4 linked regions of the Homo sapiens genome follow. The protein of the gene in region 1 purifies or fractionates together with the protein of each later gene. This does not show direct contact. Each region holds a gene or a part of one and is shown on either strand. Other genes may lie near its edges. The genes, in order: AHCYL2, NFKBIL1, PIP4K2A and FAM13A.

Region 1 (7,027 bases):
AGCCAAACTTTTCTTGAGCCCATCAAAGATTTGAGGTCATAAAGCACAGAAGTGAACTGCCCTCCAAAGAGTGACAAATCCTTTTAAAGAGAGAGGGAAGACTGTTTCACCTTTGGCAGTGCATGGGGGGAAGAAATGGCTGCCACAGATAAGAATAAGAAAATATCAGCTAAACTTTTGAACAATTACGAAAGGCTGGGTGTGGGAAAGTGTGTCAATGTGGAATTTTTTGAAGCTCCAGACACAAGTAGATTTCCCATTCACATGCAGGCTGTTTTCCAGAGGCTTCCACCCAGTGCTCAAAACAAAGACTGGGGCAGGGAGCTGATTGGCTGTGCTCAGAAACAGACATGAAACCTGGGCACTTCCCTACACTCTTCTCTCATAGGAACCAAAGCCTCAAGCTGTAGGAAGAGCAGGAATTGGGCCTGCCATTAGGGACTAGGCAAAGATCCACTGTGTCTGGAGGAAGGCAGAAGCAAAAACTCTGCCTCTGGGAGAGGCACAGGAAAACCTCTTGGGCCCAGGACAGTTCACTGATACAAAGTAAGGATCTGCTACCTCTCCAGCTCTCCAGGAAGGGCAGGAAAATATGTCTTGCCCAAGACCCACCACAGATTCAAGGCAAAGTTTGGCTGCTACAGATAGGAGAGGCAGGAATATTGAGAAAACCCTGCCCCTCACAGAGGTCTGCCTAAGACTGAGACTGCACCAGAGATCCAAGAACCCCACTTGCCCTCACCGTGTGCTTAGCCCCAGGAAACAAAGAGCAGCAGTCTAGTGCGGCAGATGAGGCAGGTACTTGAAAAGAGGACACTTCTGTGGCACACATGTGCAGAAGTAGCTGAAGGCTGAGGGTAAAGCAGAAGCACTGAGGAATGTCCTTTGGTAACCTCAAATCACAAGGTTATAGCAGTCCACTGCTGGAGGAATTTGAAGCCTTTGTTGATATACAATGAACTCTAAATTCAGCCCAATTCATGACTATAACGAAAACTAATATACTACCACTCAATTAAAAATGTCAGGACATACAAAAAGTAAAAAAAAAAACCCACTGTCAGGAAATAAGTAAACAACAGAGGCAGGCTCTCAGATGAGCCAGATGTTTGATCAGACAGGAGATATAAAATAACTATGATTAATATGTTTATGTTATTTATTTATATTTTTTTATACACAGGATCTTGCTATATTGCCCAGGCTGGACTAATATGTTTATGTTAAAGGATCTAGTTGAGAAAGATAGACAACATCTATGAATAGATAGAAAATTTCAGCAGAGATGGAAACAATAAAAAGTCAAATACAGGCTGGGTGCAGTGGCTCAGGCCTGTAAAGGCCAGCACTCTGGGAGGCCAAGGTGGGCAGATCACCTGGGGTCGGGAGTTTGAGACCAGCCTGACCAACATGGAGAAACCCCATCTCTACTAAAAATACAAAATTAGCTGCTTGGTGCCACATGCCTTTAATCCCAGTTATTCGGGAGGCTGAGGCAGGAGAATCGCTTGATCCCAGGAGGTGGAGGTTGTGGTGAGCCAAGATTGCACCGTTGCACTCCAGCCTGGGCAACAAGAGCAAAACTCTGTCTCAAAAAAAAAAAAAAAAAAAAAAAAGTCAAATACAAATGCCAGGAAAAAAAAAAAGTCAGATTAAAAGTTCCTTCAACAGGTTTATCATCAGACCGGGCACATCCAAGGACAGAATCAGTGAACCTGAAGATAGACCAATAAAAATTACTGAACTGAGCCAGGCACAGTGACTCATGCCTGTAACCCTAGCGCTTTGAAAGGCTGAGGCAGGAGATCGCTTGAGGCCAGGAGTTTGAGACCAGCCTGGGCATCACAGCAAGATCTCTTCTCTACAAAAAATTAAAAAAAATTAGCCAGGCATAGTGGTATATGCCTGTAGTCCCAGTTACTTGGGAGGCTGGGGCAGGAGGATCGCTTGAGCCCAGGAGTTTGAGGCTGCAATGAGCCTGCAATGATTGTACCACTGCACTCCAGCCTGGGTGACACAGTGAGACCCTACTCAACAAAACAAAACAACAACAAAAAAAGAAATTACTGAACTGAAATACAAAAAGAAGAAGACTGGCAGAAAAAAATCACAACGGAGTGCTCAAAATCTATGGGGTCTATGGGAGTCTATGGATTCTTTCCCTCTTTGCCTTCTGGAACTCCAGTTACATGTATGGAGAGGGAAAAAAGAGGATCTGGGAACAATGACATTTCAAAAGCAAAGAGCACATTAGTGCCCAGATCCACTAAAAGGAGCTAGGCATTCTGGGAGAAATGGCTGGTTCCAAGAGTAGGGCATGGAATGTTCAAGATGAGCTTAGGTGATCTTGTACCAAAAGCAAGGAAATGTTCAAAGAATGAAAGGGATATATCAAAAGACAAAAGAAGTCACAGAAGCCACACTGAAGAGGCTCTCCCTGGTCAAACTGGGAACAAGATGATCATGTAAATAAGTAATGATAGTAATGGATTATAACCTATTAAATAAAATAGGAAACAATGATTCCATACAAATAAAAATAATGAATAAATCAAAGTAAGATAAAGAATGAGATATTTACAGTTTCATAGTACTATCTCACATAAACATATTAATTCTATTTTTATTTATTTTTGAGACAGGGTCTCACTCTGTCACCCAGGCTGGAGTGCAGTGCAATCTCAGCTCACTGCTCACTGCAATCTCGACCTTTCGGGCTCAATCAATCCTCCCACCTCAGCCTCCCAAGTAGCTGGAACTACAGGCACATGCCACCACACCTGGCTAACTTTTGTATTTTTTTGTAGAGATGGGGTTTTACCATGTTGCCTAGGCTAGTCTTCAACTCCTGGGTTCAAGTGATCTGCCAACCTTGACGTCCCAAAGTGCTGGGATTACAGGCGTGAGCCATCACACCCAGCCCAAAAAACATATTAATTATAAACTGGGAAAAAAACTTTTACAGAGGAAAATCCTGGGAGACACCACCTCAATCAAGGGATTAAAGTGAATATCATCAGTTCTGGGACAAACTGAAATCATGTGTCACCTGATAGGATATATCACTTCCCTGAATTCCCACCATAGATGTATAGCCTGAATCTCATAATGAGGAAGCATCAGAAAAATCCAAATTGAGGAAATTCTACAAAATAATTCATCTGTAATCTTCAAAAGTGTCAAGGTCATGAAAATCAAAGAAAGACTGAGAAACTGTTCTGTACTAATGAAGATTAAAAAGACATGACAACTAAATGTGACATATAACCATGGACTGGATTCTTTTGTTAGAAAAATATTATCAGAACAACAAGCGAAACTCCAGTGGGATCTAAGGATTGGATGGTAATAATGAATCAATGTTAATTTTCTACTTCTGATGGTTATACTGCTAGTACAGGAAAATGTCCTTCTTTGTAGAAAATACACACTAAAGTATTTGGGGATTGCTATGGTCTGAATGTATGTTCTCCTCCCCCAGAGTCATATGTTAAAAACTAACCCCCTAGGCGATGGTATTAAAAGGTGATTATGGAAGTGATTGGAAGGTGATTAGACATGAGATTTCTGCCCTCACAAATGGGATTAGTGTACTTATAAAACAAGCCTGAGGAAGCTTGCTTGCCCCTTTGGCCATGTGAGGGCACATAGAAAGCGCCATCTATAAGGAACAGGCCCTCACCAGATACTGAATCTGCTGGCGCCTTGATCTTGGACTTCCTAGCCTCCAGAACTGTGAACAATAAATATCTATTGTTTATTAATTACCCAGTCTAAGGTATTTTGTTATAGCAGCCCAAATGAACTAAGACAAGAGTGAAAGAGTATTAGGTTGGCAAACAAAGCATAATTTCTTTGTCGTTATTTTTTTAAAGGAAAAAAATGTGGGGTGGAAACAATAAATTAATATTAAAATTGGTAAGCTAATTGTGATCAATCCATTCAGGAAAAAAATAGAAAGGGAACCATGAAAGGTGGTAATGCTCACTGAGCCTAAGGGTAAAAAACAAACTAGATGTAATTCAGCAACATGAGACAGTAGAGAAGCACTTACTATTTTAAGCTACCACACTGAAGTCTCATGTCGCTGACTGAGCAGGCCAAAAAAGATTCAAGAGTGTTTCTGTCTTGATTCATTAGTTTGTAGCTCCAAAACAGATAGCTTTTCAATTTATTATATTAATTTTGAGCAGTCAGGGTACTCTTGTCCTCAGAGAACACATAACCCAGAAAAGTTTCATAGTGAAGATGCTAATAGAAGCTGTCTGTACCTTGAGGAATCTCTAATGTTCTTAATCAGGAATGTGACCACATAAGTGTTGTGCTTTGGGAGAGACAATCTTTGGAAAGCTGATCTAGCCACACAGATGACCCAGATCTTATGAATCCCCATAAAAGATTCCAGACCACTGCTCAATATAACAATTTCCCGATAGTGGTCTCATTATGGTTAGCAACTCCATATATATTGCATCTCTGGTGATAAAAGAGGAGATCTAGAAAATTGTGGGGGCATTTTTGGTTGCCACAATAATTGGAAGGGGAGTGCTATTGGCATTTAGTGGGCAGGACCAGGAATCTGGACATTTTGAAAGTGTCTCAACAAAAAACTGTGTTGCAGCTGGTACAATTTTCAAATGTCCCAATAAAAGTTCCCATGGGTGAAAAACCTATCTACAATTATCTGAGTTTAGAACCTAATTCCACTTTACAAATTAGCAAAAAGTAGTTTTGTAGTTTTAATACAAAACAATAGTTTTTCCAGGAATGTAACAGCTATGTAAATGAAGAGAAAACTCATACTTTTTGTTGTTCTTATTGTTTAGAAGATTACAAAAAGTTGTTTACTATTTCAGAAAATCATGGCAATGCTGCTCTGATGCTCTGGAATCAATAACACATTTATTTCTGTCTTCAAATAATACTATTTCAAATAATACTGTGAAATAGTACAAATATCTGATTGTTCTACTATAGTTGTCCTCAAGTATTTACATATTGAAATACACATTATTTTAAGTATTGTACTTTTTTTATTCCTCCTTCATATTTCAGTTAAGATTTTATATTGATTTATTTTTAAAGATTATATGTACCTGGACATGTTATATCTGAATTTCATTTCAGGATAGTTCAGGGACACTGCAAAAAAAAAGTTTTTTAATAAAAAGGGGACATTAAAACTGATGAGAGTAAGGTAGGAATCACTGGTGTAAGCAAATCATGGTAATTCCACGCCCCTCGGTAGGACTGGTGGAGCACAGATACATGATCCAGTTCTGCCCAATGAGACACGATGGAGTATCCTGGAGGGACTTCTCTTGAGTGAGGAAGAAATGGTCCCTCTTCCTTTTCATGTCAGTTTGTGATGACTAGAATAGTTGTAAGCATCTTGCTATCAGCTTTAGGGTGAAGTAAGCATACTGAGGAGGCAGCTCCAAGAGAATCAGAGAGGTGAAGCTGGAGCCCTGAGATCCTGCATCTGAAGTCTGCCTTCCCTTTGGACTTTCTGCTATGTACTGTGATAAATTCCTTTATGTGACATAACTTTTATTACAGTCTGTTGTTGTAATTGCTCTCTTTTATTTTGAGTTACTGTTGTTCATTTCTTACTGTGCTGAATTTATAGCTGTCTCTCAGTATCCTCAGGGGATTTATTCCAGCACTCCCATGGATACCAAAATCTGAGGATGCTCATGTCCCTTATATAAAATGATGCAGTGTTTGCATATAATCTGTGCACATCCTTCTGTATATTTTAAAGCATCTCTAGGTTATTTATAGTACCCAATACAGTGTAAATGCTATGTAAATAGTTGTTATATTTCTTGTTATTTTGTATTGTTGTATTATTTTATTTTCTGAATATTTTTGATCTGCAGTTGGTCAAATCCTCAGGAAGCAGAACTGGTGGACATGCAGGGCCAATTGCATAAATTAAACTTGATTATAGGTATATATGTATAGGAAAAAACATAGTATATATAGGGTTCAGTACTGTCTGAAGTTTCAGGTGTCCACTAGGGGTCTTGAAACTTATCCCCCACAGACAAGGCAGGGGGACTACTGTATATTGAAGTTAAAATCTTGACTCTGTGATTTCTAGCTGTATAACCTTAAACAAATATCTTAAGCCCTCTGAGCCTCAGCTTCTTCGTTTATAAAATGGAAACAAGAATACCTGCTTTATATGGCCATTATAAGGATTAATAAGCTAATACTTGTTAAGCTCTTAACTCGGTGCTTGGCATGTTGTAAGCTTTCAGTAGCTCGTGGCTATTATTAACTATTGTAATTAAAAGGAGAAAAGAAAAGAACTCACAGCAGTCTGAGCAGTGATGTGTGTGCAACCCACGATTTTGGCTCCAGCCAAAGGCTTTTCTCCTTGAGCTCTCTTCCTCAAAGCCATCAATGCAGGCATTTCTGAAAAGGCCCAATAAATACAGCAATATTAAAGAAGAAGGAATAAGAGATAAAAGAACAAACAGAAAAACTTGTTTTCTTAAGTTAAGATCCTTCCCCTGATCAGGTTAGATTAGGTTTCTCCAGGGATCAAGACATTAAACCTGTATTTTCCTTTATAAAGGGCTTTTGGAGGCAAATGCTCCAGGGTTCTGATTCTCTATATTCCAGTCCTTATCCAGTCTCTCTCCCTTTTTTTTTTTTTTTTTTAATACAGGGTTCCTTCTAGACTTGCCAGATTTCCCCAGTGTTTCTTGAACTCACATTTCTTTTGTTATAAGTATTCTTATCACATAGAAATTTCACAAGCTACCAGACCCCAGACATAAAAAGGGATTAATATGGACAAAAAGACACAGGTAGGTTAAGAAGGAAAAGGTGCTTGTTTTCTTTACCTTGTTCAGCAATTTCAATTTCTCTTCGTCCAAACTCTGCCTGTTTGATGTTCTTAACACAGAAGTCACTGCTTCCCTTAGAGTTCTTTTGCTGCTTGTCCCTGGGCGATGTCTCATCATCAGAGCTATCTGTATATGAAGCCGCTGGAATGACAGAATAAAAAACACTC
Region 2 (7,027 bases), on another chromosome or scaffold:
GTGGGAGAGCAGGGAGCAGAAGTTAGCTGGGACTCCCACTCCTCGGCAGAGCTGCCATCTTGAATCCTGCTGGTCACTCGCTCCCTTGGTCTTAAAGCAATGGAAGGGTGGCTCACATGGATGCCTCCTGGGTATTAGGAAATAACCATCACTGATAAATACAGACTGATAGTTTACCACATGCATGGTAAGTGTGGTAGTTTAAAATATTCTCGGCCAGGCGCGGTGGCTCACGCCTGTAATCCCAGCACTTTGGGAGTCCGAGGCGGGCGGATCACGAGGTCAGGAGATCAAGACCATCCTGGCTAACATGGTGAAATCCCATCTCTACTAAAAAATACAAAAAATTAGCCAGGCCTGGTGGCGGGCGCCTGCAGTCCCAGCTACTCGGCAGGCTGAGGCAGGAGAATGATGTGAACCCGGGAGGTGGAGCTTGTAGTAAGCCGAGATCGTGCCACTGCACTCCAGCCTAGGTGACAGAGCAAGACTCCGTCTCAAAAAAAAAAAAAAAAAAATTCTTACTTGTGTCTCCACAAACTATTTCAGCGTCCTAGAAGTTCTACCATGCCAACTGACATTTTCTGACCTGCCTCCAGCCACCAAGGCAGTGCCCAAATTCTTTGACTATGTATTCCACTTTTCACTTAAAAATATTGTCACTATATAAATCCCTTATTTTCTCACCTGAAACCATATATCAGACTGGGAAAATATCTGAATGCTCTACTCTGGGCCATTAATAAATACACAAATATGTAATACTTATCTTTTATTATCACTTATCAATAAACTGAGTAAAATAAATGTTTTCAGGGGAATTTCTCTCAGCCAGCCTTACCAGGGGATGATGGGAGAGGGGTGGGGAGGTGAACCGGCAACAACTATGGCCGGCGGCAGAGCAAGCTCTTTCCAAATGACTGCTGACCTAGGGCAGGGGAAAGGGAGTGGAGTGTGACAGAGGGTCTCACCCATGGGCTGAGAGAAAACAGGAGAGGAACCGACGTTCCTGAACTCCCCTTTTCTTCAGTCCCAACCTTGCTGCATCTGGCCCAAGGTTAGCTGAGTGCCATGCTACTTCCTTCACTGCCAACCCAGGCATCCTGGCCAGGCCCACCTGCTGTGGCCACCAACCACCTCTTTCACTTGGGGGATAGAAGAAGGGGAGGGAGGCAGCCTTCCTTCCTGTGGACCTACTTTCTTTCCCCGGGGTAAGAGGAAATGGGCTAGCAGTCCTTAAATCTTTATTTGGTAGTGCTGGAAAGTACTGTTTACCTGGCAGAAAGCTGGAATAGGGGAAGGCAAGGCCAGGAAGGCAAGAAGACAGAATGGCCCAGGTGTGGCTGGCGAAGGCCCACCATCCCTACCCAAATCACATCAGGGTTGGTGGGGGGGGGCACTTCTCCCTAGTGCTGCTGTGACCTGTCACAGACCCTCTCAACTTGTCCCACCCAGAAAGTACCTGGTCCTGTCTCTCATTCGCTTGTTCCCCACCTGAGCTCAGGTGGTGAGCATGGTGAGTGCTCAGGCTTGCATGGGAGGTTTACATTCATAGGTTTTAAGGAGTAGGGCCTCCAACTATAAAAACATAATATTAAACAGCCACTACAACTGAGGCATGTGTTTGAAAAAAGCTGGCTACAAAACTGTAGAGAGGATCAGATGTGGCCAGGCACGGTGGCTCACGCCTGTAATCCCAGCACTTTGGGAGGCTGGGGGGGGGGGACAATGGATCACAAGGTCAGGAGTTCAATACCAGCCTGGCCAAGATGGTGAAAACCCGTCTTTACTAAAACAAACAAACAAAATATATATATAATTATATTTTATATTATATATAAAATTAGCCAGGCGTGGTGGCTGACGCCTGTAATCCCAGCTACTTGGGAGGTTGAGGCAGAGAACTGCTTGAACCTGGGAGGCGGAGGTTGCAGTGAGCCGAGATCGCGCCTCTGCATTCCAGCCTGGGTGACAGGGTGAGACTCTATCTCAAAAAAAAAAAAAAAAAAAAAAAAGAGAGAGAGAGAGAGGATCAGATAATAACTGTCTAAAACAAGAGACCAAATCCTATGGTTGGAAAAAAAGAGGCCGGGCGTGGTGGCTCATGGCCTGTAATCCCAGCACTTTGGGAGGCTGAGGCGGGTGGATCACCTGAGGTCAGGAGTTCGAGACCAGCCTGGCCAACATGGTGAAATCCTGTCTCTACTAAAAATACAAAAATTAGCCAGGCGTGGTAGCATGTGCCTGTAATCCCAGCTACTTGGGAGGCTGAGTCAGGAGAATCACTTGAACCTGGAAGGCAGAGGTTGCAGTGAGCTGAGATCATGCCAGTGCACTCCAGCCTGGGCAACAGAGGGAGACTCCCATCTCAAAAAAAAAAAAAAAAAAAGAAAAAAAATAGACTGGCAAAAAATATGTAAAAATTCTAGCCTATGGGTGGTGGGGCTGTAGGTGGCTTTTCCCCCAATTTTATTTGACATTTTAATGTGAAAGGGATATAATTAAGTTGAAATTTTCTTTTTAAAGAAGGACGAACAAATTTGATAACTATTAACAGTGTACTGTGATCCCTTCCAGTCCCACCTTGGTGTACCTAAAAGCATACATATGACACATTTATTTGGAGATATGTAACCATACTACAAATATTGCTTGGCAACTTGCTTCTTTCATTTAACATCTCATTTATATTTTTCCACAGGAATATATACAGTCTACCTCATACTTTTTGACGACTTTATAATTAGTGTTCCACTGTGTGTACAAAACAAATCTCCTTACCCCAATATCGATAGACTTTGTTTCAAAAAATGTTCAGCCTCATGAGTATCTTACAGTCTTTCTGTGGGGGTAGATTTTCATAAGTGGAATTTCTGAGTCAAAGGACATGCGCAATTTGGTCAAACTGCTCTCAATAAGTTTGTGCCAATATACAAGTGTGCCTATGTCTTCCTTTACCAAAATTGAATATCATCAACCCTTTTAATTTTGCCAGTTGGATAGATTAAAAAATTATTTTATTAACAATGTTTTTTTCTTTTTCATGTCTTTTGGCTATTTGTATTTTTTGTGAATGAATTGCTCATATTCTTTATCCACTTTTTCTTTGGAAATTATATATATTGATATGAGGGTTCTATATACTGTATGTGTTATACATATTGCAAACATTTTCTTCTATCTATCTTTAAAAAAGCTTTTTTTTTCTTTTTGAGACAAGGTCTCACCCTGTTGCCCAGGCTGCAGTGCGGTGGCATGATCTTGCTCACTGCAAACTCTGCCCCACCTGGGCTCAAGCGATCCTCCCACCTCAGCCTCCTGAGTAACTGGGACTACAGGACGACAGCCACGTACCACCACGCCTGGCTAATTTTGTATTTTTTGTACAGACCAGGTCTCACTGTGTTGTTCAGGCTGGTCTTGAACTCCTGGCTCAAGTGATCTGCCTACCTTGGCATCCCAAAGTGTGGGATTACAGGTGTGAGCTATCGCACCCGGCCTAAAATTTTCATGTAGTTAAATCTATATCAATATATTATTTTCTGACTTTTTATTTCACTTCACTCTTAGGAAGGCTCTATTTTAAGATTATAAAACATTCTCTGCATTTTCTTCTACTACTTTAGATGTATACTCATTTTTATTTTTAGAAATTAAAAAACTCGGCCAGGCGCGGTGGCTCATGCCTGTAATCCCAGCACTCTGGGAGCCCAAGGTGGGTGGATCATGAGGTCAGGAGTTCAAGACCAGTCTGGCCAAGATGGTGAAACCCCGTCTCCACTAAAAATACAAAAATTAGCCTGACGTGGTGGCGGATGCCTGTAATCCCAGCTACTTGGGAGGCTGAGGCAGAGAACTGCTTGAACCCGGGAGGCAGAGGTTGCAGTGAGCCAAGATTGCGCGACTGGACTCCAGCCTGGGTGACAGAGTGAGACTCTGTCTCAACAACAACAAAAAAGAAATTAAAAAACTCTCAAAAATACAAAGTATAATACAATACACAACCCCATTCCTACCACAGGGTTTGTTAATGTACTGTCATGTTTGTAGTATAATTTATTTTAAGGAAATAAAATCATCACAGATAAAGGTAGTTTACCGTGATACCGCCTTCCAAGTTTCATTCCTCCCCAGGCCATCTGTCCCATGAATTTGGTGTGTACCTTCCTGTCATATTCAGGTATTTAATCTGCTGGAATTTACTTTTTGATTAGGTGTGAGGTGGGACTCTTGTTTTTCCCTAGATGAGCCAAATGTTCCAATATTATTTATAAAATAGTTCACCTGGTCAGGCACAGTGGCTCATGCCTGTAATCCCAGCACTTTGGGAAGCTGAGGTGGGTGGATCACCTCAGGTCAGGACAGGAGTTTAAGACCAGCCTGGCCAACACGGTGAAACCCCCATCTCTACAAAAATACAAAAATTAGCTGGGCATGATGGCAGGTGCCCAGCTACTCAGGAGGCTGAGGCAGGAGAATTGCTTGAACCCGGGAGGCGGAGGTTGTAGCAAGCTGAGATTGCGCCATTGCACTCCAGCCTGGGTGACACAGCGAGACTCTGTCTCGGAAAAAAAAAAAAAAAAAAGTTCACCTTTCTCCAGTATTAGAAATGCCCCCTTTAGGCCTGGCGCGGTGGCTCACGCCTCTAATCCCAGCATTTTGGGAGGCCGAGGCGGGCGGATCATGAGGTCAGGAGTTCGAGACCAGCCTGGCCAACACAGTGAAACCCTGTCTCTACTAAAAATACAAAAAATTAGCTGGGCGTGGTGGCGGGCGCCTGTAATCCCAGCTACTTGGGAGGCTGAGGCAGGAGAATGGCTTGAACCTGGGAAGCGGAGCTTGCAGTGAGCCGAGATCACACTACTGCACTCCAGCTTGGGCGACAGAATGAGACTCCATCCCCCACTTCGCCAAAAAAAAAAAAAAAAAAAAAAAAAAAGAAATGCCGCCTTTATAGCGATTTACCAGATCAACCGTTCTCAATGCTCTTTAATACGCTGGAGTTTCATACTAAGAAAAATAAACATAAAAACATTTTGGCCAGGCGCTGTGGCTCACGCCTGTAATCCCAACACTTTGGGAGGCTGAGGTGAGCAGATCACAAGGTCAAGAGATCGAGACCATCCTGGCTAACATGGTGAAACCCCGTGTCTACTAAAAATACAAAAAATTAGCCAGGCGTGGTGGCATACGCCTACAGTCCCTACGCCTATAGTCCCAGCTACTTGGGAGGCTGAGGCAGGAGAATCTCTTGAACCTGGGAGGTGGAGGTTGCAGTGAGCCGAGATTGTGCCACTGCACTCCAGCCTGGGCGACAGAATGAGACTCCTTTTCAAACAAAACAAAACAAAACAAAACAGAAAACAAAAACAAAACCAAAAGACATTCTGTGGGATGGGCACGGTGGCTCATGCCTATAATCCCAACATTTTGGGAGGCTGAGGTGGGTGGATCACTTGAGGTCAGGAGTTTGAGACCAGCCTGGCCAACATGTTGAAACCCCATCTCTACTAAAAACACAAAAATTAGGTCGGGCATGGTGGCTCATGCCTGTAATCCCAGCACTTTGGGAGGCCGAGGCAGGTGGATCATCTAAGGTCAGGAGTTCGAGAGCAGTCTGGCCAACATGGTGAAACCCCATCTCTATTAAAAATACAAAAGTTAGTCGGGCATGGTGGCAGGCTCCTGTAGTCCCGGCTACTCAGGAGGCTGAGGAAGGAGAATCACTTGAACCCAGGAGGCGGAGGTGGCAGTGAGTCAAGATACTGCCACTGCACTCCAGCCTGGGGAACAGAGGGAGACTCCGTCTCAAAAATAAATAAACAAATAAAAATTTAAAAATTAATAAATAAAAATAAAAAAATTAGCTGGGCATGGTGGTGTGTGCCTGTAATCTCAGCTACTTGGGAGGCTGAAGCAGGAGAATCGCTTGAACCCAGGAAGCAGAAGTTATAGTGAGCCGAGATCATGCCACTGCACTCCAGCCTGGGCGACAAAGCAAGACTCCGTCTCAAAAGGAAAAGAAAAAGGAAGCTGGAAGCTGAATGAGATGGGCCTTTCAACCAAGGAGTTAGAAGGCCATCTGGTGGCAGGGCTGGCAGAGGACCAGGAGTAAATAAGGCCAGAGAGGACACCAGGGTCTGGGAGTGAAGGCACTGAGCTTGGGTCCCCCTTTGGAAGACAATGACCTGAGAGCTGTGAGATTTCAGACAAGTTCCCGAACCTTTTGGGCCCTGCTTTCCTCATCTGTAAATGGGATAATATCAGTCTCACCAGCTTCTTAAAATTCAATACAATGGAGTTGGGTGTGGTGGCTCACGCCTCTAGTCCCGGCACTTTGGGAAGCCGAGGTGGGCAGACTGTTTGAACTCAGGAGATGCAGAACAGCCTGGATAACATAGCAAAACAGTCTCTACCAAAAATACAAACAATTAGCTGGGCATGGTGGTGTGTGCTTGTAGTCCCAGCTACTAGGGAGGCTGAGGTGGGAGGACTGCTTGAGCCCACGAGGTAGAGGCTGCAGTGAGCCATGATTGCACCACTGCACTCCAGGCTGGGAGACAGAATGAGACCCTGTCTCAAAACAAACAAGCAAACAAACAATAAAGGAAATCCCTACCACACTATCAGGGGCATTTTGGCTGAGCGCGGTGGCTCACGCCTGTAATCCCAGCACTTTGGGAGGCTAGGCTGGCAGGTCACCTGAGGTCGGGAGTTTGAGACCAGCCTGACCAACACGGAGAAACCGTCTCTACCAAAAATACAAAATTAGCCGGGCGTGATGGTGCATGCCTGTAATCCCAGCTACTTGGGAGGCTGAGGCAGGAGAATCTCTTGAACCCAGGAGGCAGAGGTTGAGGTGGGCTGAAATCGCGCCATTGCACTCTAGCCTGGGCAACAACAGGGAAACTCCATCTCAAAAAAACAAAACAAAACAAAAAACAAAACTCCCATTTTTGCGAGGCAAATTGGGCTCACAGAGGTAAGCTGCATGTCCCTGTTGATGGCAGAGCTGGGGTCTGGATGCAGG
Region 3 (7,210 bases), on another chromosome or scaffold:
AGTTCACAGATGCAAACACTGATGCCAAAACCTGACCTTAACATGCCCAAGGTCAACAGTTAGAATTTAAGAAAAACTTAAAGCGCAGATTCAATGAGCGTTTTACCACAGTATGTGGAAGATGCTCGTATACAACACCATGCTTGTTTGTTCTTAAGACTGCTGACATATTTATTCTCACATTATACTATAAACTTTGGTGCACAGAAGGTCATATAAAACATTTATCTAATATCAGACATTGTCACCTAAAATGAAATCAAACCAGAAATACATGGCATCTAAGGGTTTTAGATTTCATGTTTATATTACACCTCCATTCTTTTTTCAAAAATAATATAGTAAAGAAAATAGACATTTTGAAAAAAAAGGCTGTGAAACAGACCTTTCTTATGTCAACTCAGAGCCCTCAAAATAAAGACAGTTGGATAAAAATATTAGAGGTGTTTTAGCAATTCTTCCCACAGTAGCTGGCACTGTATGTGCCCAATATATATCTGTTGAATGAGTAACATGCTTACATTTATATGAAATGGAAACTTCACTCCTCTGGTTGTGGATACTTAGAACTGCCAACTTCTCTTGAGAGCAAAAGAAAATAACACCAAATGTACTATTTACAAGTCATACACTATGAAACACTTAAGTAGTTTCAAAATATTTCCAATTAGCAAGAAACTCTAAAACAAATGTAGCAATTCATAAATATAAGGTAGCAACGTAAGTGGTTACAGTAAAACATACACAATTACAAGATTTTTTAAGGCAAACTGGAATTCAGACGAGTTCCCAGAAAGCACACTCTTTTTCGGCAGCATATTGTTGACACTACCTTACTAAATTAAACCCCGAGACAGAAACACTCTCCTGACCAAAACACCAGAACTCCAAAGGAGATAAAAGCACCATAAATATGAGTAAGCACTACAGTATTCATCCTTTTTTTAAATTGTAAGTTTCTATTCTAGTAATAAGGGACCCAAAAACTACTAACATAAATAATAAAAGAGCTTAACAAAATTATACATAACTCTACATTGTAAACTTATTACTTAGGAAAAATTGCATTTCATTTTCCGTAATAAAACTTGAGAGAGGAGTTTTTGGTGCAGTAATGCATGCTCTTGTAACAACTTACATTCCCAAATAGCTAAAGAAGTTGCCAGGAAGTTAAAATGAACTTCAGTGAGTCAGTCATTAAGCTGGATAAAAATAATCATTTCTCAACTTTTCCAAAAACACTCACTCCATGCAAACACGATCGATCCTGATACTGTTTTGCCCTTCCCCCTGCTCAGCTTGGGGAAGAAAAATACAAAAACGATGCTTTTAGGCATTTTAAACAACTTCACTACATTGAGGGTGTGTGTGTGTGTGTGTGTGTGTGTGTCTGTGTGTGTGTTTTCCGAAAAACCAGCATGGTTTTCTGTCATTTCCATTACGCTGAAAAGGACATACAGACATCCATCGAAATCAAAAGCAGGGAAAGCGAACTTACACTTTTCCCCAGATGCTAAGTGACTGCAGTGGCTAAGGTCATGGTCAAAATTCACAGCTCGTTTAAACTTTCCTGGCTGAGCCAACAGCTCCGATCATGTTTCCTGATCCTATCGAAGTGGATTAAAACTGCAGGAGTTTCTCGCTGTCAGATCAGCAGGAGGCTATTTCAGACCCTCGAACCGCAGTCCGCATAGCCCGCAGCGGCGCATCCTCCAATCCCCGACTGTGCGTGACGCTAACCTTTCCACGCGTTCTCCAGCCTTTCCCACACCCCCCACAGCGGGTGCGGCCAACTCGGGACCCCCTCCGCCCGCGCCCGCCGGGACCCCCGCCTGCTGTCCCCGCCCCGGCCGCCCTTCCGCAGTCGGTGACTTCTGCCTGACTCCCCAAAGTGGGGGGAGGCGACGAAGGGAGGAAGACTCCCCGCCAAGGGCTCTCCAGCCCGCACAGCGGCAGGGCGATGCGGGAGAAGCGCAGGGATGCCGCCCGACGCCAGAGCCATATTTACATCGGCTGCTGCTTTGCCAAAAAGCCGACTTGTGCCCAGTAATATTGCCTTTAAAGGAAAAAGAAAGGACCTAAGCACTAAAGCTGCTGCCCCAAATCTGCTCGCGCTCCGGTATCCTCGCCCCAGTGCCCCAGTGGGAGGCTCGCACGCGCCCAGCCCGGGACAGGTACACCTGCCCGCAAGCGGAAGACGCGGGCGCCGCGCGGCCCCCACACCGGGTAGCGGTCGCCCGGACCCGGCCCCCAGCAGCTCCCGCCGGGGCTGACAGCCGAGGCGCCGTGCCCCGCACAAACTTCCTACCTCCCAGGCTGCGGGGACCGACCTGCGGGCGGGCGGGCGGACCGGGGGCGGCACTGGCACCCACCGTGAGACTCACATGCACACGGGACCCCCGACCCGCACCGGGCCATAGATCTAAAGGGGACGCAAGTGGTGGTGCCTGGGCGGCCCAGAGGGCTGGGGGCACGCGCCGCGGGGCTGGGGGCTTCGAGGCGGGCGAGCAGCCGGAGGTCCAGGGCTGACTCCGGCTCCCCGCCCCGCAGCAGCTGCAGCCGGAGGAGGAGGGGAACGAGGAGGAAGAGGAGGAGGAGGAAGGGGACCGCGCGCCGCAGCTGAGCCCTTACCGAGTGGTTTACCCCCCACATGAGGACGCTGAGCAGCGGGTCGCTGGCCCGAAACAGCTTCACTTTCTGCGCTACGAAGTGCTTCTTCTTGGTCTTGGTCTTGCTCGCCAGGACAGAGGACCCTAGGTTGCCGGGGGTCGCCATGGCCGCCTCCTATGTCCCCTCCACCGCCGTGCTCCCGAGGCCGGGGACCCGCCCTCTCTACACCCCGGCCCGGGGAGGCAGCCGCATCCCCCCGGCGGCGGCCCCGGCGCGCCGCGCTCCGCTCCGCCCGCCGCCGCCGGCGCGCTCAGCCCCACTCGGCTCGCTCCGCCCGCTCGGCCCGGCAGACTGCGCTCGGCTCGCGCCCCGGCCCGTATCCTGCGCCCGCCGCGGATCCGCGCTCAGCCCGCGGCTGGACCCGGCGCGCGGCGAGCGGCTTCCGCGTTGGGCGCCGGCGTCATGACGCAGGGGGCGGGCGGGCAGGCGGGAGGCGGCTGCGGCGCCGCGGGCGGGGCACTGGGTGCGGGGCGCGGGGCGCGGCAGCTGGACCGTTAGGCTGCGCCTTCCCGCCCCGGCTCCGCTGCAGCCGGGCCGCCCCCTGTGCGCGGGCGACCTCCGGGCGTTCGCTCCCTGCCCGCGGAGGAGGCCGTGGGTTGCGAGCGGGAGCCTGGGGACCCCGGCTAGGCGTCCCCTGCCGCTCCCCAAGGAGGGAGAGGACAGAGTGGGCAGAGTGAGGAGGTTGGGGAGAGGAGCCCCCAGGCGTCGATCAGGCGAAGGAGGGAGGCTCATGCACTCACCCACGCCACGAGTCAGGAGACCCAGCCAGGTGTGAAATGCTGCAGGGAGACCAGGGCTTCCCAGCACCGAGGGGAAGGACCCGGGCACATTGCCGGGTCAGTCCCTGAAATGAACTTAATACTTTTGTGCGGATAACCGTCTGGCCTTTCAGACCCTCGATATGGGCCTCCTGGAGCCATTCAAGAGGGAGACTCCCACGTAATAGGCTGGGCTGTCACTGCCAACCCACTCCGTGCCCGGGGCAGGAACCTCGGACCTCATCGAGAGCCCTTGGCTTAACCAGTAGAATCATGCCCCAAAGTGCACCTTCTTCCAATCCATCACTATGGTACTTGCCATCCCTGCCTGTTTTCCAGTGCACTCACCGTCCGTGGAAATCTGTTCACCGTCTTCCTCCAGATACACCTAAATGTAGCCCTTATTATGCTGAGAATACTTGGCCTACCTCAGGAAGCTGCCATTCCAAGTATGTCTAAAACCCTGCTGCCCCCATATCGTCCTTGCAGTCGTCATCCTGTGCTATTTACTCTGACCCAGCTCACCAGTCCTCACGGAGTAGGTTCTTGGAAACTGTCACCTTAAGCAAAACAACATATAACAAAACCAAATTTGCCATAGGCTGACATATAAAAAAAGAGTTAAGTTCCTACAGCATTATTTCCGGTTACAAAAACATCACCGAACTTCAAAGTAAAAATTCAAAACACTTCTAATATTAAACATTAAAATAAATGTGAGCTATACCTCTTTTTTATTTTTATTTTTTCCCTTGAGATAGGGTCTCGCTGTGTCAACCAGGCTGGGGGTGCAGTGGTGCAATCACAGCTCACTGCAGGCTCTACTTCCCCAGACTCAGGTGATTCTCCCACTTCAGACTCCCCAGTAGTTGAGACTACAGGCGCGCACCACCAAGCCTGGATAAACTTCTTGTATTTTTGGTAGAGATGGGGTTTCACCATGCTGCCCAGGTTGGTCTCGAACTCCTGGGCTTAAGGAATCTGCCCACCTTGGCCTCCTAAAGTGCTGGGAATACAGGCACCAGCCACTGCACCTGGCCTACCTACATTTTTTAAAGATTGATAAAAACAAGATAATGGTTTGCCAAATTTCTAGTGATTAAGTGAGCGATGGTTGCTGTGGTGCTGGGTTAAGTCAAGGAATAAGTGTTTGCAAAGCAAAAGTTGCCTGTAGGACCTGCTGCTACCATGAAATTCAAAAACAATCACAAATATGGTAGCTGAGTGCACTCCTATCTCATTTATTGTCGTGCATTTTTATGATTAATGTACACTTACATATTTTTATTTTACAGTCATTTGTTTCACGGATTTATTCATTTTTCCAACTCATTTATTCCAGTTCAAGGTCACAGATAGTGGGAGCCTTATCCCAGCTGCTCAGCTTGGGCAAAAGGTGGGAACCATCCCTGGATAGGATGCCATTCTGTTGCAAGACACACACACACACACACACACACACACACACACCACACACACACACACACACCCCTACACTCACTTAAACTGGGACCATTTAGGAAGGGGGCAGTGATTCATGCCTGTAGTCCCAGCACTTTGGGAGGCATGAGGCAGGTGGACTGCTTGAGCCCAGGAGTTGGAGACCAGCCTGAGCAATATGGTGAAACCCCATCTCTACCATAAATACAAAAATTAACCAGGCATGGTGGTACACACCTGTAGTCTCAGCTATTCTGGAGGCTGCAGTAGGCGGATTGCTTGAGCCCAGGAGTTGGAGGCTGCAGTGAGCTGTGATAATGCCACTACACTCTAGCTTGGGTAATAGATGGAGACCCCGTCTCTTAAAACAAAAAAAAAAAAAGAAAAGAAAAACTACTGGTATCATGTAGACAAGCCTATGAACTGAACGTGCATGTCTTTAAGATGTGAGAGGAAACCAAGGTACCCAAAGAAAACTCTTGCAGGCACGAGGAGAACCTGCAAATACAAACAGTGGTCCCGGCTAGAAATCCATTTTTTTCTCATCAACATTATAACAAAACAACATTGAACAAAATGACAGTATTTGAGGACCCGCTGTAAGTTGTCTGTTGTCATTATTACTCCACTCAAATATAGTAGATACCTTCTGTGCCCTTGGCAGACTGCTTGGTCCTGTCAGGGAGATGAAGGATGACAGGCCATTATCCCTTTAGGATCTTGAGTCTCCTCAGGGGTTGAGGGGAGGTCATGTGGTCACCTTCATTTGCTCCTATTCTTTCTTTGACTGTTTTTTAAGTCCCCTCGTCGTAATTTCCTGCTTGCTTTCATCCAAAATGATATCTGCTTCTCCAGCATCAACCATCACTGCTCTTAGTGGTTTAAAAAAGCCCAAAACCTAAATTTTTAGTGAGACATCACGGGGACTGAGCTGTAGCTCTCCCACTTACTTGAGCAAATCACTTAACCTCTCCCAGCCTCGGGTTCTTTATGTTAACAGTAACTATCATCAGACACAAATGTCACTTTAGGAACTATTTTGAACCTAGTAATATAATCCTCCCCTACCTACATTATAGGATGTTTGTTAGAATCAAAATCAATAGTAGATAATGGCAATGAAAACCCTTTGTAAACCAGACAACACAATAGAAAATGTAGAGTGCTTGCAAGTAACTCATAAACTCTTCCCCGACCCCAGAGAAATGCCTGGTTGCACATTTGTACATCATTTTTCCACAGGCATCTTTTAAAAGTGTCTAAAACCATCTGGGCATGCTGGCTGATGCCTGTAATCCCAGCACTTTTGGGACGCCAAGATGGGAGAATCACTTGAGCCCAGGAGTTCAAGGGTAGCCTGGATATAATAGCGAGATCTCATTTCTACCAAAAAAAAAAAAAAAAATTTAAATTAGCTGCACATGGTGGTATGCATCCTGTGGTCTCAGTTACTTGGGAGGCTGAGGCAGGAGGATCACTGAGGCTGCAGTGAGCTATGACTGCACCACTGCACTCCAGCCTGGGCAACAGAGCAAGACCCTATCTCAAAAAAAAAAAAAAAGATATCTAAAGCCAAGTTTGACATCTTTCCCCATCCACAAGTTACTTTATTTCTTGTATTATATTGGAAATGGCATTCATATCACTCGGTTACCCCAGCTGGAAGTTCTTTTATTTAACAAATTTTCATTGGCCAGGCTTGAAGGCTTACCATCATCATCAATTATTGCCTTTCACCACCACCCAACCTAAACTCCTTTATTGGATCCTGCCCTTGAAAACAATTAGACTCAAAAATCCTCTCTTCCCTGATGCTTTCCTGATCCTCCTAATTCAAATTCATCCTTCCACCTCAGTGCTTCCATAGCATTTATTTGTTTCATAATAGCTATATTATACTTAATTTTATATTAATAATGCAAGACAATAGGCTTGCTGCAACTGCCAAAAAACTGAATTTAGTGATGACAGAGTGCTGAATGACCCTAGAGGAAGAGGGGATGGATACCTGTTGTTAGGAGAGGCTCCGCCTTAGGAAAGCAGCAATCTGTGGGTGGGTGCAGAGGCCAATAGCACCATGTGAGGGACAGATAGGGGCATAGTGTGGTATTTTTAGGTAGTTATGAGGAGACTTGCAGGTTTCAAAGGACAGAATTTCTGGTGATTTAACATGTTTTGAAAGCCATCTAACACAATACCATTCACAAATACATCATTAAATTATTTATTTATTTATTTTATTATTTATTTTTTTTGAGACAGGGTCTCACTCTGACACCCAGGCTGGAGTGCAGTGGCAAGAACACAGCTCACTGCAGCCTTGAACTCCTGACCTCAAGCCA
Region 4 (7,027 bases), on another chromosome or scaffold:
AGACCGTCCTGATTGTCATGAAGCTCAGAAAGTTTAGTACTGGATTTCTGACGTTTAGGCTTGCTCCTTTCTCCAGCACAACCAAAAGTATTTTTGTGTACCTTTTCGACTTCCTGAGTATTCAAAATACAATCATCAAGGTGGTTGAACCCAGAAGGAGTATTTTCTTTGTTGATAAGTCCCCTTGAATTGAGAAAAAAGCTTAATTTTATTTTAAAAGATCAAATGGTCATTGAATGATACTCTAACTACATCATATCATACCTAGGAAATCCAAAGAGTGCCCAGAAATTCCAGTATGCATCTCTGATCAAAATCTGAGCAGAGTGCCACTCCTGGGACTGCTTGGTGCCAAATAAATCACATTGAAAGAGAAATAATTCCTAGAGGCAAATTGGCAAGGGCTGTTTCTACCAATGGACAGCTTTTGTATTTTACCAAAAGTAATTTGTATTCAAAAAGGGAGAACAGTGCAAGTTTATACAGAAATTTCCTATTATTCACAGTAGATGTTTAAATATATATATATTTAAAATTTATAAATTCATACAGTGTATGGAGAAAAATCTAAAAAGGAATTGTATCTTCCATTTTAGTAGTGTAGAAATGTGTATTGAACAATGAGAACACATGGACACAGGAAGGGGAACATCACAGTCCGGAGACTGTTGTGGGGTGGGGGGAGCGGGGAGGGATAGCATTAGGAGATATACCTAATGCTAAATGACGAGTTAATGGGTGCAGCACACCAACATGGCACATGTATACATATGTAACAAACCTGCACATTGTGCACATGTACCCTAAAACTTAAAGTATAATGATAATAAAATAAAAAAAATTAAAAAATTAAAAAAAAAGAAATGTGTATTTCAATCTCATTGAATTATTAATAGATAATCTTAGTAGAAATTATATAAGTTAATAAAAACTATGGAATACAAAGCATTTTAACTGAAATCTGGATTTGTTACTTCCAAGTACAGACCTCTTTCATGACATAGTTGTAGAAGTAGATATGAATGTCATAGAATTTAATTCATTTGATGTTCATAAAACAGTTTTAAGTATTAATATCTTAAGCATTCCTATAATAGGTTTTCACAAGAGTAAATTAGCAAACTGAGTTAAAAAAAAAAAGAAACAATATCATGGAACAAATAAAACCATCAGCACAGCACCATGGCTTGGTAAGGAACAAATAAATGAGACTTTATTCTCCTCCTTCGTGGTATGAGTGAGTTAATGTACCTCCCTAAACACCTAAAACTGCATCTTGAAATAAATGAATTCTAAAGAGTAAAAATACATATCATATTTTACTATTGGCTCAACCATATCCCAAAATGAAAGATAACATTAAATATTTATTCTGAAATCTAAATTCATATCTTTAGACAGGGTATAACAGGCAAAATTATGAATTAAATACTATCATAATATTTTCAAAGTTATACTATCTTTGGTAATTTTTAACACTCCATATTTTAGTCTTTTTTCTACAACTTTAATGTGAAAATATATATTTAGTAAAATTATATAAAAGATTTATGCACATTTATAAGAGATATTCTAAGTACAAAGTAATTGAAGACAGGAGGAGAAGATGATAGGGACTAAATGCAAGCACTTATACTCATGCACATGTTCCTCAATCTCTCCCCTCCACGCACTGAGAGCAGTGCCTTCTGTGGGTGGCTGGATCAATTTGGTGTAATTCTAAAACTCAAAAATTATTTATTTTACTATTTAAATTCTATCTTATCACTCTTCATAGTTTTCCTAGCCTTTTTTTCTGTTTGTTTTTTATTTATTTTTAATTTTGTGTGTACACGGTAGGTGTATATACATAAATTACAGGGTACATGAGATATTTTGATACAGGCATGCAATGCATAATAATTACATTAAGGTAAATGAGGTATCCATTCCATCAGGCACTTATTCTTTGTATTACAAACAATCCAATTACACTCTTTTAGATATTTTTAATGTATAATTAATTTATTTTTTATTCTAATCACCCTGTTGTCCTAACAAATACTAGGTCTTTTGCAAACTATGTTTTCGTATCCATTAACCTAGCTTTTGGGGTATATGTCCACTTATAACTTTTTTTTTCACTTTTATTTTTATTTATTTATTTTTTGAGACAGAGTCTTGCTCTGTCGCCCAGGCTGGAGTACAGTGGTGCGATCTAGGCTCACTGCAAACTCGACCTCCCAGGTTCAAGCAATTCTCCTGCCTCAGCCTCCTGAGTAGCTGGGACTACAGGCATGCGCCACCACACTGGCTAATTTTTGTATTTTTAGTAGAGATGGGGTTTCATCATATTGGCCAGGCTCTTCTCAAACTCCTGCCCGCCTTGGCCTCCCAAAATGCTGGGATTACAGGCATGAGCCACTGCGCCCAGCCCCAATTATAACCTTTAAATGGAGGATCTTTAATGCTTTAAAGCTAGTATGGACGGATTTATGTACCCTCAAAATTCACATTTTGAAGTCCTAACCCCCAATGTGACCATATTTGGAGACAGGGCCTTTAAGGAGGTAAATAAGGTTAAAAGAGTAACAAGGGTGGGACCCTAATCCAATAGGACTAATGTCATTGTAAGAAGAGGGAGAGACATCAGGAGTGTGCACACAGGGGAAGGGGCATGTGCAGACACAGTGAAAAGGTAGCCATCTGCATGCCAGTGTGAGAGGCCTCAACAGAAACGGACACTTCTAGCACCTTGACCTTGAACTTACAGCTTCTAGAACTGTCAGAAGATAAATTTTTGTTGTTTAAGCCACCCAGTCGGTGGTATTTTGTTATGGCAGCCCAAGCAGACTAAAGACGACAGCTAAAAACGATTTTTAAAAATAAGAAAGTAAAGTTTATTTTATGATCATTTTGAATAGTGAATGAATGACTAGAAAAAATCCTGTCAAAATAAATATATGAAAATCTGACCATGCTGTTGTGCTCATGGACAAATCCTGTCTCCTCCGAGGGAAGTCTTTGCTTTTACGTGCATCCACGTGTCTCTTCTACTTCACTTTGTTGAACTCTAATTTCGATTACACTATAGATCCATGAGCCTGGATGCGATATCTGTTTTTCATCATTGAATCACCTTATAGTACTGGGTGCTCAATTATCACTGTTGAAGACTTCAGGGGCACTTTATTTAGATACAGCTCTGTATAAAACACATGGTTGTATTTCTTTAAATCTAATCTTAGATGGAGCAGGTGTACTCAATTCCTTCCTGCAATATTCTGTCAGATTTCAATCACATTTGACATAACTTGGATTTCACTGAACTTAGATCTCTGGACCTCTCACTTTCATTATCTAGATTTATTTCCATATTTTTTTCAGGATTTTCTCCTCACCCCTACATACTTACTTAATGTCCTGGCAATGCTGAACTATTTATTATTCCCCAAATATAGCCTGCTTTTCTTTTACTTTGCAGTAGGATTTTAATATAGTCTTTATATAACAAAGAAACATTTGGATCAATTTTCCAGTTCACTGTGTTTTTAGAAGATTGAAAATCATTTTCACTTAAATGATGCTTTGCTTTTAAAAAATATTTCTTATGATTTTTTTCAAACATATACAGAAGTAGAGACACTATCATAACAGACTTCCATATACCCATTACCAAAATTTCACATTTCTGTAAACTTGGCAGATAGTAGATTTTTTTACTAAATGAATTTAGCTGAATATTTTTACATAATGAAGATTTTATTATTACATAATGAAGATTAATTTGCTACAAAATTGTAGCAAATAGTAATATAGGTCTGATTATATTTCCTTATGAATTTAGACAAATAACAAATCATTTGTACCTATGAATGAAGTTATTTGTAGTCTTTGTCTATCTTCGGTACTGCTATTTCAAAAATGGGCCATGACGACTTTAGTATGACTTTACTGACCCTTCTACTCATCTTGAAACATAGTCATCATTGGCTTCTTCAAGAATATTTTTTAATTTGTTGCATCTCTAAGTTACTAGAGGCAAAATAATAGATAATAATATAAATAGATTTCTATGTTTCTAAACACTTTTTAACCACTTCATAAAGCTTATAGTTTTGAATAGAATATTACAGCCTAGCTTAATTTTTCCTTATTTTTTGAGTAAAGACTTGTGAAAAATCTTAAATGAATCAATTGTATAGAAGCATATACTATGACGAACTCTTGACTGTAGGCTATATTAATGATTCTTGATCTTCTTATAATTTATGACATGTTCATGACTCTCCTGGAGATACTGGAGAAGACCTTTATGGCGGCTCATTGAAAGGAAGGTTAAAACAGAAATCTAAGACCAAAGAGGAGATGCTGAAAGAATCAGCCTGCTGGAAAACTATTTCAAGCAAGCAGATGAGCAAAAGGAAAGAGTGGAGCTGGGAAGAAACAAGCGGAATGAGAGCACTGGATCAAAGAAGGTGAGTGAAAGGATAACAGAACCCAGCATGAAGATAAGGGGAGAGGGGTTGCAGGAAATGACTACTGACCTACGGTCAAAGCTGGGCCAGACAAAATTAGTGGATCTGGGGGTTTTGAGAGATAAGGGTCTCACTCTTCCAAAGACCTGGAGAGCTAAGAGAAGCCGTTCAGTGTGGGCTGGGAGTTGAAGGACTATCAAGACACGATTGTATCATAGTGTGCCAGGTTAGGTACTGTTTGTACCCCAAGATTCTCTCACTCAATGCCCAACTGTGATTTGACCAGGAGGAGTGGTGAAGGGAATAGCAAGAGAAGAACAATTAAGGGAAAGGCTAGGGTTTCATGGGTATAGTCTTCATACCATCACTCAGCTACCATTCCCCATCTCCTTTGGTTCTCCTAATACTGCTAGTAAAAAACAATCAAGATAACTTATGCAAGAAATGTCCCTGGGCTTGGGAAGCTCTCTATTTAAATTCTTCAGGAGAGGTGAGGCTGTGTTTCACATTTCCCTGCCCTGTCTGGCCCCTATCTGTTTCTACCTCCACTGTCCTCCCCCAGACCTGCTGCCAAGCATCCACCAACAGCACCATCACTCTCTGTTCTCTCTCATGCTCCCCACCACTTCCCACCTCCACCTGCTAGCCCTCTGTCCAAACAAAGAGGGTGGAAAGCAGGATATCGTGACACACTGAGGATATTTTTAAAATGCAAAATGTTGCTACATACTCCTCAGCAAAAAATGAGGCAGAGGATAAGAACAGTGTTAAATGAATAATTTGTGCTTTCTCTATAACACATTAGAGGTAGTACACAAACTAATTATACTTCTAAACACTTTCTATAAACATGTCAGTAGCTAATTTTAAATGTAAATATCTCATGTCATGCCACAGGAGAAGAAATGTAAATATCTCCTATATTATACTTTTTCTATTTTCTAAATGGAATATTACAACTATTCTATCCACCAGCTCCATGAAAATTTATTTTAAAAGTACTGCACATGCTACTTGTAAATCAGTGGGTTATATTATTGATACTGCTTTATTTCTAAAATTACATTTGCTAATATAGCTCTTAAACATCTCGGTGAGGTATAGCATGAAACTTATTTATACTGTTTATCTTTTATGTTTTTCTTTAAGCGAAAAAAAGTTTTTTTTCTTTTTCCATAAAGGGTTTAATGTAGATTATGAGTCAAAGTGAAAAAGAATGCGAATGAGGGGTGTGGGACTATTATATATTCATAAAGATTAAAAATTAAGAAAAGAAAGAAAAAGAATGAGGGGTGCTAGGGTCTGGTTCAGGTTAGTTTCTGACATTTAATAAGGAGTCATTATTAAACCATAAAGAGGCTAAAGGCCATAGTCAATAAAAATAACCTTGGAACTTTCAGGGAAAATATATGAATATCTGTATAGTCTATTCTCTATATAAATTTATTTTCCTTGACAATTTAAGTCATGATTATTAAATAATATAAATGGTAATTGTTCATCTGTATTTTATTAAATCTTTTCATGGAGAATAAAGCTCTTTGTAACACTATTCTTAAAATTCATACTATGGGAATGCCTTAAAATTAGTGATTATTATAATAAACAACTTAAGCTTTTCATTTTTTGAGTAGATTTAAGCCCAACCTTTCTTATACTAAAACATAATCAAATGTCAGAGTATTATAGGGATATCTGACTATTTAATCACATAAATATAATGGAGAAATCAGCTGCTCCATAAACAAGTCTAAATAGTCAACTTAATGTTGTCTAGCAAGAAAAAAAATACCTCTGGACAAGCATATGGTAACTTTCTCTGCCCATGGTTCAGAATCCCTCTAAATAAGATATTTATGAGGAAGCCATAGGGTGTATTCAATCAGAGGTGGCTTCTAACAACATACCAAATGTCTGGATGAAACGGAAATATTTATGCAATTACCTATGAATTTCCAAATGTAGCTAAGTTTAGAATGGACAAACTGATAACTCTTAAAGTTTTAACCTAAATACTGAAATGGGAGAGGACCAGGAGGTATGACTATAACACAGCGACTAATTTGGGTGTATATTTCTTTTAAAAAGAGAAAACTCAAGTAAGAGGAAGAATCAATGCCAACTCACTTGTCTCTCCCATGTCGAACTTCATCCTGCTCCTTGGACTGGCGGCGGCGCTGTCTGGCAGATGTGGCAGAAGATGCTGATAGTGTTCCAGATTCTGAGTCCTCTGAACTTTGACCTCCAGAGTTATTAACATCAAAAAGATGTTGTTCTACAGCTGATCGGATGGTTCTTTCTAAGAGTCTGGCAAAAAAGAATGCAGAGTCATTCAAGCAGTCAAGTTCATCAGTGATCACCTTAAAAAATCTGTGCCTACAGTTTTGGGAACATCTGTATTTCCAGTGGAAAGTCTTTAGAACTTCATAAGCAAAGAGAGATGATGAGGCATTAATCTAAAAAATATCTGCATTATGTGTTAAAACCAAAACTAAACGAAAACAATTCTGCCAATTTAACAACTTTCTCATCTTTGTGAAGCCAGTATTGCTGAAATGCTCATGGCAAGT

The links.
Region 2: the proteins of AHCYL2 (region 1) and NFKBIL1 purify together in Homo sapiens (affinity purification with mass spectrometry; 2 studies listed by BioGRID and IntAct, with this or other methods). This does not show direct contact.
Region 3: the proteins of AHCYL2 (region 1) and PIP4K2A purify together in Homo sapiens (co-immunoprecipitation; 3 studies listed by BioGRID and IntAct, with this or other methods). This does not show direct contact.
Region 4: the proteins of AHCYL2 (region 1) and FAM13A purify together in Homo sapiens (affinity purification with mass spectrometry; 2 studies listed by BioGRID and IntAct, with this or other methods). This does not show direct contact.

The regions. Positions count from the first base shown.
Region 1 is NC_000007.14:129,389,030-129,396,056, reverse strand, and holds part of AHCYL2 (adenosylhomocysteinase 3), read right to left. Parts: intron 7,002-7,027; coding exon 6,858-7,001; intron 6,424-6,857; coding exon 6,323-6,423; intron 1-6,322. UniProt on the Homo sapiens protein: May regulate the electrogenic sodium/bicarbonate cotransporter SLC4A4 activity and Mg(2+)-sensitivity. On the contrary of its homolog AHCYL1, does not regulate ITPR1 sensitivity to inositol 1,4,5-trisphosphate.
Region 2 is NC_000006.12:31,550,595-31,557,621, reverse strand, and holds part of NFKBIL1 (NF-kappa-B inhibitor-like protein 1), read right to left. Parts: intron 1-7,027. UniProt on the Homo sapiens protein: Involved in the regulation of innate immune response. Acts as negative regulator of Toll-like receptor and interferon-regulatory factor (IRF) signaling pathways.
Region 3 is NC_000010.11:22,711,552-22,718,761, forward strand, and holds the start of PIP4K2A (phosphatidylinositol 5-phosphate 4-kinase type-2 alpha), read right to left. Parts: upstream 3,028-7,210; 5' UTR 2,776-3,027; coding exon 2,632-2,775; intron 2,558-2,631; exon of another isoform or gene 2,385-2,557; intron 1,642-2,384; exon of another isoform or gene 1,499-1,641; intron 1-1,498. UniProt on the Homo sapiens protein: Catalyzes the phosphorylation of phosphatidylinositol 5-phosphate (PtdIns5P) on the fourth hydroxyl of the myo-inositol ring, to form phosphatidylinositol 4,5-bisphosphate (PtdIns(4,5)P2). Has both ATP- and GTP-dependent kinase activities.
Region 4 is NC_000004.12:88,781,169-88,788,195, forward strand, and holds part of FAM13A (protein FAM13A), read right to left. Parts: intron 6,765-7,027; coding exon 6,585-6,764; intron 184-6,584; coding exon 1-183.